Regions from separate parts of the Homo sapiens genome. Here region 2 is reported to be linked to region 1. Evidence: microRNA targets listed by miRTarBase, many of them from high-throughput screens and not tested one by one. Region 1 holds a microRNA gene; the other region holds the end of a gene's coding sequence.

Region 1 (6,074 bases):
CCTTCTTGGTTGCCCCAGAGACTTGTAGCAGGGGCTGGAGCTTCTAAAACCAAAACTTTCACTTCACACGTCAGTGATTCTGCACCGTCATATCTGCAGCAAAACTGACCTCCAGGGCTTTCCCGGAAGCGCTGCAGCTTTCTTTACATAGCCTCATCTGCCCGCCTTTTTGAGGTAGACTTCTCCTGCCAAGGGGGGGCTATTTGGTATAGTCTTGAGCCCTCCTCCCCTGCACACATGTGTGCCCCTTTTCTTCTCTCTCCTTTCTTAGGTGGCCTGAATTTGGAAGTTTAGCTGTAGTGAAGGGCGGTGCCGCTCCAAGGTGAGCAAGGCTCCTTCAGGGCCACTGACTTCTCTGTTTCCCCTGCCACCTGCCTCCACTATGTATGCTGCTTCCTGGGCCACTCCTTTGGAGTGGCTTTCACCTGTTCCCTGAAGGCTGGGCCCTGGCTCCATGATGGCAGGCTCTTCTAGCAATGTGCTTCCCAGTCAGGTTTTCTGGTTGGTTGGGAACATCCCTGGGCTGGTCTGCACAAGCTCTTAGGGGCTCACTCTGGGCTGGCCTAAGGCCAACTGCAGGGGCTGGGCTCTCAGGGGAGGTGAGGATGGCCACAGGTCTGCAGAGGAACTTGGCAGCAGTGGGCACTGGAGACCAAATGGCTTTGCTTTTGCTTCCCTCACTTGGATGTGTTGTCAGTGGGAGGGAAGAAATCAGGCAAATGAAAAAAGTAAAAAGGCTCTACCCTGATCCTTTGCCAGGAGCCCTGAGAGTCTGGCCTCTGCTTGGGGGTCTGCAGGCCTGAGCACTGCAGTTCCTCAATTGCTCACTGCCTTCCTCTGGGGGAGGAGCAGAGAGGTCACAGATGCTTGGCTTGCCCTGTGACCTGGTGCAATTCACTTAACCTCTCTGAACCTCAGTACATCCACAGATTGAGAGAGATAAAACTCACATGCAGGGCTCTTCAGGAGACTGTATGGAGAAGTGCTCTGAGAGCTGCCAGGAACAATACTGTCATCACAGATGCTAAATCGGGGAGCCCGGGCTTTTTTTTGTAGAAGGTGGTTTCCCTAGCTCCTCTATTCACTTACTGTAATCACAGAATCATGGATCTTGAACTGGAAGGGATCTCAAGAGGTCCTCTGGTCCAGTCCTGTGGCATAATTACCTGTATTTTGTAGATAAGATTGTTTTAAGTGTTCCTTATTTTGACATATCTATCATAACATGGTGCAAATAAGCCCTTCTCCTCTTGGGGAGGTGTGACTTCCAGGTGTACATGTACGCAGGTGCTCCAGCCAGCAAAGAGGTGGAAGAGGACAGGAAAGCCATGCCCCCTTAGAAGCAAGTGCAGGTTTGGCAGGATTTCTGGGCAGAAGATCCAAGTTTTGCCTGTGTCCTCCACACCCCACCCTGGCCCTGTAGGCCCAGTGAGTGTGTGAGAATCATATTCTGCTGCCCCTCCCTCCTCTTCTCCCTGAGAAAGTGAGGGATGCACCTGGTTCTCAGGTCTGGCCACAGTGTTTTGAAAAGTGGCTGCCAGGACACATGGTATTCTTCGGTGGTTTTTCTTTCAAAGGAAAATCTCCTTGTGACCCATCTCCTTGAAAAACAGCCACCGCCACCACCGCCGCCGCCACCACCACCACTGCACCACCACCAAAAAACTTGGAAGGAAGAATAGGACACACTCCCCTGAACTTTCCCCTGGCCCTAGAGCCCCATTGAATGTGGGGGCCAGAACCAACCTCTTGAGCTGCAAAAATGTTTTCCATCTTCCCACCAGTCAGGCAAGGAGGCATCAAGGCCTGGACCTGAGAATTGATCAGGGGGATATTTAGGGAAGACAGGGGAAAATGTGAGTATGGAGTGAAAAGCCGCTCAACTCTGGCCTGAGTTGCTAGATTTAAATCCAGGAGATTTTCCTCACCTAAGCGATGGAGATGGTGGGTCCTTTCTAGGGACTGAGGCCAGTTTCTCAATAACCTTTACACGCACCAGGACGCTTTTGAGCCAGAAAGTGAAACTCGGAGAGTCTGTTAATAAAATGCCATGGAGAGGATTGTGCATGATTTACCGTATCCAAAACCAGAGAGAGTTTCTTTGTGGAAGAAAGCGACTTGTGCCTTCCCCAGCATCACACACACACTTTCCTGGCAGGCTCAATGGGTTTCCAAACATTTCGTCACCGTCTCCTCCTGACCTTGGTGTGAAAGGAACTAGCAGCGTGGCCCGCCAGCAAAGCCATCGGGGGCGCCAGCCTGGGCGGGGGATGGGGACGGCGACCGACTCGTGAGTGGAGGTGAGGTCTGCTGGAAATCCCCAGCCCCGGCCGCCGCCTGAGGTTTAAGGACGCCTTCCCCGGCCTTATTTGGTCGCAGGAAGTGGGCGGCGCCGGGCCTGCTGGCTGAGGCCGCCCCGAGACAGTTGTGCTGATGAAGTGGTAGAGCTGGTTCCTGCTCGCCGCGGTGCCGCGCGCGCCGGCCGGCCGCTGGGCGCTCCGCGCTCCCAGCCTCGAGTTGTGCAATCCTTTGTAGCACGCCAGAGTCCTCCTCCTCCGCTGTTGCCTCTCGCCCTCTCTCTTTTTTTTTTTTTCAAGCTGTGAGCTCAACCGATGAGTCAGAGCCGTGCAATCCTGACACTGCATCGCAGGACTGGGGGTGACACGGAGGGAGGCAGAGCGCTCGCGAGGCGGACGGCACGGGTGCGGGGCGCGCCGAGGCTCCTGCATCGCAAGCGGGGGGTGACAGCCCGCGCGTCCCGCCCGGGCCCTGCCAGCAAACTTCTCAGCCTCGGGAGGCGCGGGCTGGCGGAAGCCCCGCGAGCGCCGCGGGGAGGCGACGGCGCCTGTTTGTTTTTAAAATCGGGAGTGCGTGCAGGCGGCTGGAGTCCCGGAGGCGACCGAAGGCGGCGACCCGCGGCGGAAGGGGGACAGCCGAGCCCGGAGCCCGGAGCCCGGGCAAGAGCTGGGTAAGTGGGGCTGCCTGGCCGGCGGCCGAGGCCTGCACGCGGCGGGGCCGGCGAGGGGACCCCAGGCGGCGCGCGAGCTGTGGCTGCTCGCACGGCGGGTTGCAGCTCTGCAGGCGCGGCCCGGAGAGGGGGCCGCGGGGGCCGCTGCGCTCGAACTTCTGCGGCCTGGGCGGCGGTGGAGCGGGCGCGTGTGGCCGTGCGGGGGCCGCCTGCAGCCCGCCGCCCCCTCCCCCGCGGTCCGCGCCCTCGGCCCGCAGCTGCGTGTGCAGCGCAGCCCCGCGGTGTTTGTGCAGCTACGCAGCTTGCGCGCGGCCCCCGCCCACCCGGGCGCGGCCCCGCCAGGAAAGCCCTCCCCACCCGGCGGCCCGCGGCGGCTCGGGAATCCGGCTGCTCCTCCTCCGCTGGAGAGAAACGTGGTGTCCGTGGGGACCGGCTGACGTGACGGAGCCCAGGCCCGGAAGGCGCGGCGAGGGGCTAGCCAGCTGAGGGAACTTGGCGCGGGAGCCCCTTCCCCTGCCAGCGTGCACGGGAAAGTGGGCCTGGACGCGGCGTCCACGCCAGGAGTTTGGGGGACAGAGGTGCAGGGGCGTTGGGGAACTGGGGCAAATGCAGTCAGCAGAGGCCTAGGCTGGAGCGCTTCGCGCGGGCGGGCGCACCTCAGACCTGTCATCCTCCCGCGCGCCCCCGCACGCCCGCGCCGCCGCAGCCCTCCCAGCCCGCGCGGTGCCTCGCGGGGAGCTGTGTTCCCTGGTGCCTGGCGGCAGCGCCGAAACCCGGGATTCGGCCGGGCCCTGCATATGGCCGGCTTGGTGGAGCTGGTCACGTCGCCTCCCAAGTCGCACATGCAGGACCATGTGTGTCAGGTTGCCCCCAAGGCCTCTGGGTAAAGGTCTAGGGGAGGAAGGGGAACTTCGTGTGCCCTGGGGCCTTCAGGCTTCAGCCCCAAGGCGGGCCGACATGGAGGAGGTACCTGCCACAGAAAGTGGAGGCCGGGTGTCCGTCCCAGCCCAGCCTCCAGCGAGAGCTGGTGAGAAGATGAAAGGGGAAGTTATATGCCCCATTTAAAACTTTGTTGGTCACAACTACGGTGGCTGCTTCCTGTTTCCACCATCCCACGTGGGACCTGTGTGCCAGCCTGTGGAGCCTCGCGCGGGGGGCGGTGGGATGGGGGAAGAGAGGCTGGCCACGGAGGCCCCGGTGGCCCGCGTATGCAGGGGATCCCTGTTGGCAGCTGCGGCTGGGGGAGGGAGGGGATGTCTGGCTTGCTCCAGCAGGGGGAGCCTGGCCAGGTGATCTGGGATCTTCTTGTTCCTGTAGCTTCAGGGTTGAGACTGAAGGCCTAGTGAAGGTGGACCGAGAAGCCAGTCCTCCCTAGGGGGCCTCAGCTGAGGGGAGAAACCACCTGTCTTGCTCTAGAGCCTCCCACCAAAGGTGTGGCACACGCCCCTTTTGGATCAGAGAAATGCACCCTTTCCTTGGGTGTTAAGTGGCTTCAGAACCCAGGGAAAAGGAGAAGCCTTCCCGGGTTGAGAATTCGTAGGTCTTCCTTTTCCAACTGCTCTGGACAGTGAATAATAGGAGCGTAAACATTCAATTACTGTGATAAACCATCTCGTTGCATGGCCCTGGTCCAGTCTCCACTCTAATTGGATTGGCCTCTGGCTGGTTACTCTGGTCCGTGTAGCTCCCGGGGGGACAAGGGGGTGAAGAACCTGGAGGATGCCCCCAGGTCATACAGCTTGCCAGCTTGCTCTGGAACAGCCTAGCCACTGCCAGTGTGGCCTCTCCAAGTGCCAGCAGAACCCCCACTCCCGTGACTCTGTCAGCTCCTCACCCCGCCCCAGGAAAGAGCGCCCTGGAGTGCCCATGGGGATGAGAATTTAATTTTTACATGTGGGATTTTAAAATAGCCCCAGTGTTTGACCCTGTGTGCTGCTGCTTTCAATAAGTGGAACACAAGAAAAGACAACATGCAGTTGTGGATTCAGCTGAGGGCCTCCTGTGTCTAGAGTCCCCAGAGAAAGGCTGCCCAGGGGTGCCAAGACCTCTGACAGAAGAGGGGAAGGGGAATGGGCCCAGTCCAGGAATCTTCAGGTTGAGAGCCCCTCTCTTGCATTTGGGTCTCCCAGAAGAAAACTTTGCTCATGCTGGGGTGGGGACAGCCACAAAGTGGCTGGGGGTTTCCAGCTTATCCTTCTAATCCTGTTTCAAATGCCACTTCTGAAGGCTGTAGCCATCTTCTGAACACTCATTTCCACCTTATGTAGTTATTTGTGTACATACTGCAGTGTGGTGGTCAAAAACAAAGACTCTGAGTTAGAGTTCCTATACAGTATCTCCTTCATAGAGTTGCTGTGAGGATTCTGTGAGTTAGTATACGTAAAATGCTTAAAGCACATTTCAGTATTTGGTAGCCTCTGCTTGAATGGGTCCCACAATGCTGCTTGGCATCTAGTAAGTGTTTAGTGTTTTTTTTTTTTTTTGGTTGTTAGAGATAGGGTCTTTCTCTGTCGCCCAGGCTGGAGTGCAGTAGTGCGATCTCAGGTCGCTGCAATCTCAGCCTCCTGGGCTCAAGCAATCTTCCCACCTCAGCCTCCCAAGTAGCTGGGACTACGGGTACACATCACCACACCTGGCTAATTTTTCTATTTTTGTAGATATGGGGTTTTGCCATGTTGCCCAGGCTGGTCTTGAACTCTTGGGCTCAAGAAATCCACCCACTTTGGCCTCCCAAAGTGCTGGGATTACAGTCTTGAACTACCTCACCTGGTCTTAGTGCATGTTAGTTGAACAAATTAGTGAAAGATCTCCATCAAAAAAAATGTGTACTTGTCATGTGTTGGGCCCAGTGAGTCCCTGCTCCTGGAACCTCCTCAGATTGCATCACTGGTTTCAAAAATGTCAGTCCACCGTGGGTGATTCTGGGGCTGGTGAACCCAGTTTCCTGGCACTGCCCTGTAGCTGGCCTTGTGGAGTGCATGTGTCGGTCATCCTGACCCTAAGGGGACCTCAGGGTGAAAGAGTTGTGGAGCCATCTCCCTAGGGATCTGCTAGCCTGGGCACTTCCTTTGGTCAGCCCAGATTGGCACCCTTCCTGTGTGTGTGC
Region 2 (6,074 bases), not on the chromosome of region 1:
CTGCATTTTAATGATAACAGAATTAATTCTGGCCTCAAAAAGCTACTATGATATCTTAGGTGTGCCAAAATCGGCATCAGAGCGCCAAATCAAGAAGGCCTTTCACAAGTTGGCCATGAAGTACCACCCTGACAAAAATAAGAGCCCGGATGCTGAAGCAAAATTCAGAGAGATTGCAGAAGGTAAATAAATGACAATCTCTGAAGTGTCATGGGTATTAACTAGTAAGGAGAATGATAGCTAAGAAGTGTTTGTATTTGAAGGTTTTGTGGAGATGGGAGGTGGAGTGGGATTTATGTATAAATATTGGGTGATTCTCTGAGATTATTTTCTTATCACAGATGCTTTGATTCCTGAATAAATATATGAAAGAATAATAGATAATTTTATTGGTATACGTATCTAAAAATATTGAAAATCTATTCTATATTATTTATAAGATCACTGTTGCTTCTATGACAAAAAAGAATTTTAGGTACCCAAAATTCTTATCAACTAACTTATGAAACAGAATATTTTACATTTTAAACATTAAAGACTTAAAAATTAAACTAGACTCTAAAGTGCTTTATTCACTTGATCTGCTTTTCAAAGCCATATTTGTCTTCAAAGAAAAAATTGGAACAAATTTTGACTTCAGACTAGCTCTAAAACAAATTGCACCTGCTGAGCATTCAGTAATTATTGTTGGATGGAGGTAACTGAGTAGGGAGTTAGAATTAAACAGTTTACTTTAGTAAGGAGGTGCAAAATCTTAATTCCTATTAATTGGTTATAGTTGATGGTTTAATTTTTTAATACAATTAATGATTTCACACGAATAATATGAAGATTAAAGAACTCTGATTGTTGCCCACATGTTTATTTGTAGTAATGGTAACATTTAATAACTTTATTGAGTATTGCAGATGGCATTGTGCCAACTGCTGATAACTCAGCAGTTAATAAGACAGTTTCTGCTTTATTTTATAATTTTGATTAACTTGATGCTTATATTTGTAGTGTTTTGCTTTTATTTCTGATGCGAAATTCTTCCCTAAAATAATAGTATTCAGTTCACTTGCTTGAAGAGATTTGAATATATGTAATTTTGAATATTTTACCTTCAGTTACTAAAAATATTTTTGTCACTTTCAGCATATGAAACACTCTCAGATGCTAATAGACGAAAAGAGTATGATACACTTGGACACAGTGCTTTTACTAGTGGTAAAGGACAAAGAGGTAGTGGAAGTTCTTTTGAGCAGTCATTTAACTTCAATTTTGATGACTTATTTAAAGACTTTGGCTTTTTTGGTCAAAACCAAAACACTGGATCCAAGAAGCGTTTTGAAAATCATTTCCAGACACGCCAGGATGGTGGTTCCAGTAGACAAAGGCATCATTTCCAAGAATTTTCTTTTGGAGGTGGATTATTTGATGACATGTTTGAAGATATGGAGAAAATGTTTTCTTTTAGTGGTTTTGACTCTACCAATCAGCATACAGTACAGACTGAAAATAGATTTCATGGATCTAGCAAGCACTGCAGGACTGTCACTCAACGAAGAGGAAATATGGTTACTACATACACTGACTGTTCAGGACAGTAGTTCTTATTCTATTCTCACTAAATCCAACTGGTTGACTCTTCCTCATTATCTTTGATGCTAAACAATTTTCTGTGAACTATTTTGACAAGTGCATGATTTCACTTTAAACAATTTGATATAGCTATTAAATATATTTAAGGGTTTTTTTTTTTTGACAAATTCAACATTCAACGAGTAGACAAAATGCTAATTATTTCCCTGATTAGGAAAGTTTCTTTAAAAAACACGTAATTTTGCCTAGTGCTTTTTCTCTACCTGCCCTTGGGCTCACTAATATCACCAGTATTATTACCAAGAAAATATTGAGTTTACCTGATTAAACTTTAAAAGTTAATTGTAGATTTAAATTGTGTGAACCTAATGATTTTTGCAGTGAAACCTTTACTAATTCAAAGTTGCATGTTCTATGACATCTGTGACTTGCGTTGCAGAGTGTACATGAAACTGTATAATTGAGTCATTCAGTAAAGGAGAACAGTATCTTGGTTAATTGCTACTGAAAGGTTGAGAAAGGAATGGTTTGATATTTACCACAGCGCTGTGCCTTTCTACAGTAGAACTGGGGTAAAGGAAATGGTTTTATTGCCCATAGTCATTTAGGCTGGAAAAAAGTTGAAAACTTAACGAAATATTGCCAAGAGATTGTTATGTGTTTGGTTCCAGCCTAAAAATGATTTTGTAGTGTTGAAATCATAGCTACTTACATAGCTTTTTCATATTTCTTTCTTAGTTGTTGGCACTCTTAGGTCTTAGTATGGATTTATGTGTTTGTGTGTGTGTAGTTTATCCTCTCTCTCATCTTTATCTAGAGATTGACTGATACCTCATTCTGTTTGTAAAACCAGCCAGTAATTTCTGTGCAACCTTACTATGTGCAATATTTTTAAATCCTGAGAAATGTGTGCTTTTGTTTTCGGATAGACTTATTTCTTTAGTTCTGCACTTTTCCACATTATACTCCATATGAGTATTAATCCTATGGATACATATTAAAACAAGTGTCTCATACAACATTGTATGTGAGAGAAATATAAATATTTACAACCTGATATTCGTTGTTGTTTTATTGTTAAAAGTTTATTATGCAACTCTGGAGGTATAGAGGGCATATAAGCTATGGGACATATGCTGATCACAGGCTATATTCATGAAGTTACTTTTGACCAACCTGAAAACTGATAGGATTTTGTTTGTCATTTGGTAATTTCTACTGCATTCTTACCATCCTTCTCTCACAAATTTTGATAGCTTGAAGATCTTTTTAATTATAATTTTGTTGTATTTGTTTCCTAGGAGCAAGTGTTCCTGCTGCCAGTTCTTTCCTCTTTAGGCGTGGTTGAGAAAAAGCAGAAACTTTACATAAAGCTGTATTTCTTAATCATCTTTAATTTGAAACTTAAGAAAATGAATTTATTCTGTTATATTTATGTAACTTATTTCCTGGAAGTTATATCTACTAGTTTTGTTTGATAATAATAAAATTAGCTATACCTTGAATTTTGGGCTGAGGATTATCTGTAGCCTATTTTAAAAAAAATCAAGTTTTGAGACATTCCAGTAATATATAAAGCAGAAGAGTGTGGCTTGGGAGATAAATCAGAAAAACCACAATCAGGATGTCCTGGAGAAGCTTTAAGGATTGGATTTGGGTGAGGGTGCAGAATTCATTCATATTAATTTATTGAAGAACTGCATTGGAAAGCTCTGCTCTTAGCTACTCCCTCCAGGTAAACAGTTGTTAACAAAAGTAACTTTTTCCTCAGGCAAGGGACTAAACAAGTCTTGAAAGAATGGGGTTATTTGGGGGAAGACTTACCCATTGAGGGTATTAGGGTGTGAGGTGAAGGCAGAGTAAAGGTGAAGTGAATTTTCACTTGAAGGTCAAGGGGGTGCTGGTGAGAAATGGCAGCACTCCCAGAGTAAAGCCTCCTTATGTTGGCTTGGTGGGAAACAATTTCTCTGCATGCAGACCACATACTCACCTGTGGGTACCTGCTGGTTAAAAAACCCTGACAATTTAGCCGGGTGTGATGACATGCACCCATAATCCCAGATACTCTGGAAGCTGAGGTGGGAGGAGTTGAAGGCTGCAGTGAGCTATGATTGGCCACTGCCTGACAATTTACTGAGAACCATCGCTTCTATTCAAAAAGGAGGTCTAATGCAGACACATAACTGCTGAAGAAACTGCTTTTCTCAGCTATCTGTGCAATTTGATCTAATCCTTCATAAACACATACTGATGTCCAAAGAATGTCAGACATTTAAGGAAAACTGATAGCTAGGAAAAGAAGCCCCAATGATTAGCCCTGACAATGTAATTCAGAGATTGAATTTAAGATTCTAGTATCAGATTTTTTTAATAGAATATTGCATCAACAGATAAGGACAGTTCTTGTCTTAACCTGCTTACTTCAGGATTTCTTTAATGATGGTGTCAGAACAGATGAAGTAATGTGAACTTACATTTGGTTTACATTTACATCTAACAACCAAAGTCAATGGGAGGTAACAGATGTGTGGTACATGTGTTTCCTACCATGCAGGCCTACTTTTTCCTTTGAAATTCATATTCTTCCTCATATCTCAACTTTGTTACTCAACTCCCTCGCAAACTTCTCTCCAGAGGTTGCCCTAATGTGGAGCTACCTAAATTTATTGTGCAGTTCTTTTTACTGTTACTCATTATGATACACCGTAACTGGTGAGCAGGATGGTGGGGGTGATTACATTCTTATGGAAAAAGACAAGCAATAACCATATGAATAAATTATAAACTGATAAAGTATGGAAAAAAAATGTAGCACAGGAGAGGAGAATTGTGAGGGCAGGCAGGTTGAGGATGTGTTGCAATTTTTGACAGGATTGTCAGTGTTGGCCTCATTGAGAAGGTAAATTTGAGCAGATGCTTGAAGGGAATTGTTTGTACTGAAGGTGGAAGCATATGTGGGAAGTTGTAGGAATGGCAAAGAAGTGCGCATAACTGGAGGCCAGTGAGCAAACCAGAGTAGAAGGAGATGAATTCATAGATAAGAGGGGTTGAAAGCAGCCCTACAGATCACCTAGGGCCTTGCCAACCTTTGTAAAGGATTTGATTTTGGAATGTGATATGGTGGCTGAGCTTGGAGCAGATAAATGACTTGATCTTTAAATCATTTTAAAAGGGTCACTCCACGTGCTTTGTTCAGAATAGACAGAGGGGCAATGGTGGAACAAGGAGAGAGTTTGGAGGCTATTTCAGTATTCTAGGATGAGAAATTGTTGCAGCTTGTGCATCGCACGAGGGTGGCAGCAGTGGAAGTGGTAGGAAGTGGTTGGATTCCAGATGTATTCTGCAAGTACAGCTACCAGGATTTGCTTATGGATTAGATGTAGGTGTGAAAGACAGAGGAGAAAACTATGATTCTAAGCTTCATGTTCTGAGTAACTGGAAATACAGAGTTGCCTTTAAGATGGGAGAGGCTGCAGAAAGAAATTTAGGAGGAAAAATCAGAAGTTCAGCTGAGATATATCAAATTTGAGATGATGAGTAAATGGGTGGAGATATGTCTGAAGTTTGGGAGAGAGAGTGAAGCTGGAAATATGCATTTTGGGATTGTCAAAACATGTGATACTTAAAACTTTGAGAGTAGATGAAATTACTGAGGGAATGTGTAGAGACATAAAGAGCAATTGAATAACTGAGTCCCCTGGTACTCTAAAAATGCAAAAAGAAGATGAGGAGCCTACACAGGCATCTGATAAGCAGCAGCCAGTGAGTAATGAGTTTTGTGTCTTGGAAGGAAGTGAAATAAATATATCAAGAAGTAGAAAGCGGCTGGGCATGGTGACTCACGCCTGTAAACCTAGGACTTTGGGAGGCCGAGGCAGGTGGATTGCTTGAGGTCAGGAGTTCGAGACCAGCTTGGCCAACATGATGAAACCCTGCCTCTACTAAAAATACAAAAATTAGCCAGGTGTGGTGGCAGGTGCCTGTAATCCCAGCTACTTGAGAGGCTGAGGCAGGAGAATCACCTGAATCCAGGAGGTGGAGGTTGCGATGAGTTGAGATCATGCCACTGCACTCCAGCCTGGATGACAAAGTGAGACTCTATCTCAAGAAAAAAAAAAAGAAAAGAAAGAAGTAGAAAGTGATCAACTTTGTAAAATACTGCCACTAAATCCAGTAAGACGATGATTGAGAACTAACCATTGTTGTTTTTAGCAATACTGATATCAAAAATGACCTGGATGCCAATTTCTATCAAGTTTTAGGGGTGAGCCTGATTGAAGCAGGTTTAAAACAGAATGGCAGCAAGATTAAGTGCTCTTAAATCATTTGACAAAACATTTGTGGACATAATTTTTATCGTGGACTTTTTAGTAGAGTATCAGCTATGATTCAATCCATGTAGCAATAGCTTATTCTTCAGAATGATGTTCTGCAGGAGTAAGAAGTATGCTATGAAAAAAAAAATCATGTTTAAATAGATTTGTGAAATC

What was found. Region 1 holds the annotated microRNA hsa-miR-4505 (AGGCUGGGCUGGGACGGA, at 3,965-3,982, opposite strand). A microRNA usually pairs through its seed, bases 2 to 8, with sites in the 3' UTR of a target mRNA and lowers its output. Matches are read on the target gene's strand: a 7mer-m8 pairs with bases 2 to 8, a 7mer-A1 pairs with bases 2 to 7 and ends in A, and an 8mer does both.
Region 2: the mRNA of DNAJB9 is a reported target of hsa-miR-4505. Seed matches in the 3' UTR shown: 7mer-A1 at 2,434-2,440.

Annotation. Positions count from the first base shown.
Region 1 is chr14:73,756,657-73,762,730 of GRCh38, reverse strand. It overlaps MIR4505 (microRNA 4505), which reads right to left and starts at 3,984; the gene lies at 3,912-3,984. MIDEAS (mitotic deacetylase associated SANT domain protein) reads left to right here and starts at 2,428. Exons shown (of 13, transcript NM_001367710.1): 1 at 2,428-2,968. RefSeq lists enhancers at 160-459, 61-582, 583-1,105, 2,021-2,350, 4,411-4,460 and silencers at 2,771-3,010, 3,141-3,290, 3,651-3,760, 6,071-6,074.
Region 2 is chr7:108,571,762-108,577,835 of GRCh38, forward strand. It overlaps DNAJB9 (DnaJ heat shock protein family (Hsp40) member B9), which reads left to right. Exons shown (of 3, transcript NM_012328.3): 2 at 1-182; 3 at 1,138-3,089. The coding sequence ends at 1,592. Among named protein-coding and RNA genes, the nearest start is that of DNAJB9, 4.9 kb to the left of the region's middle.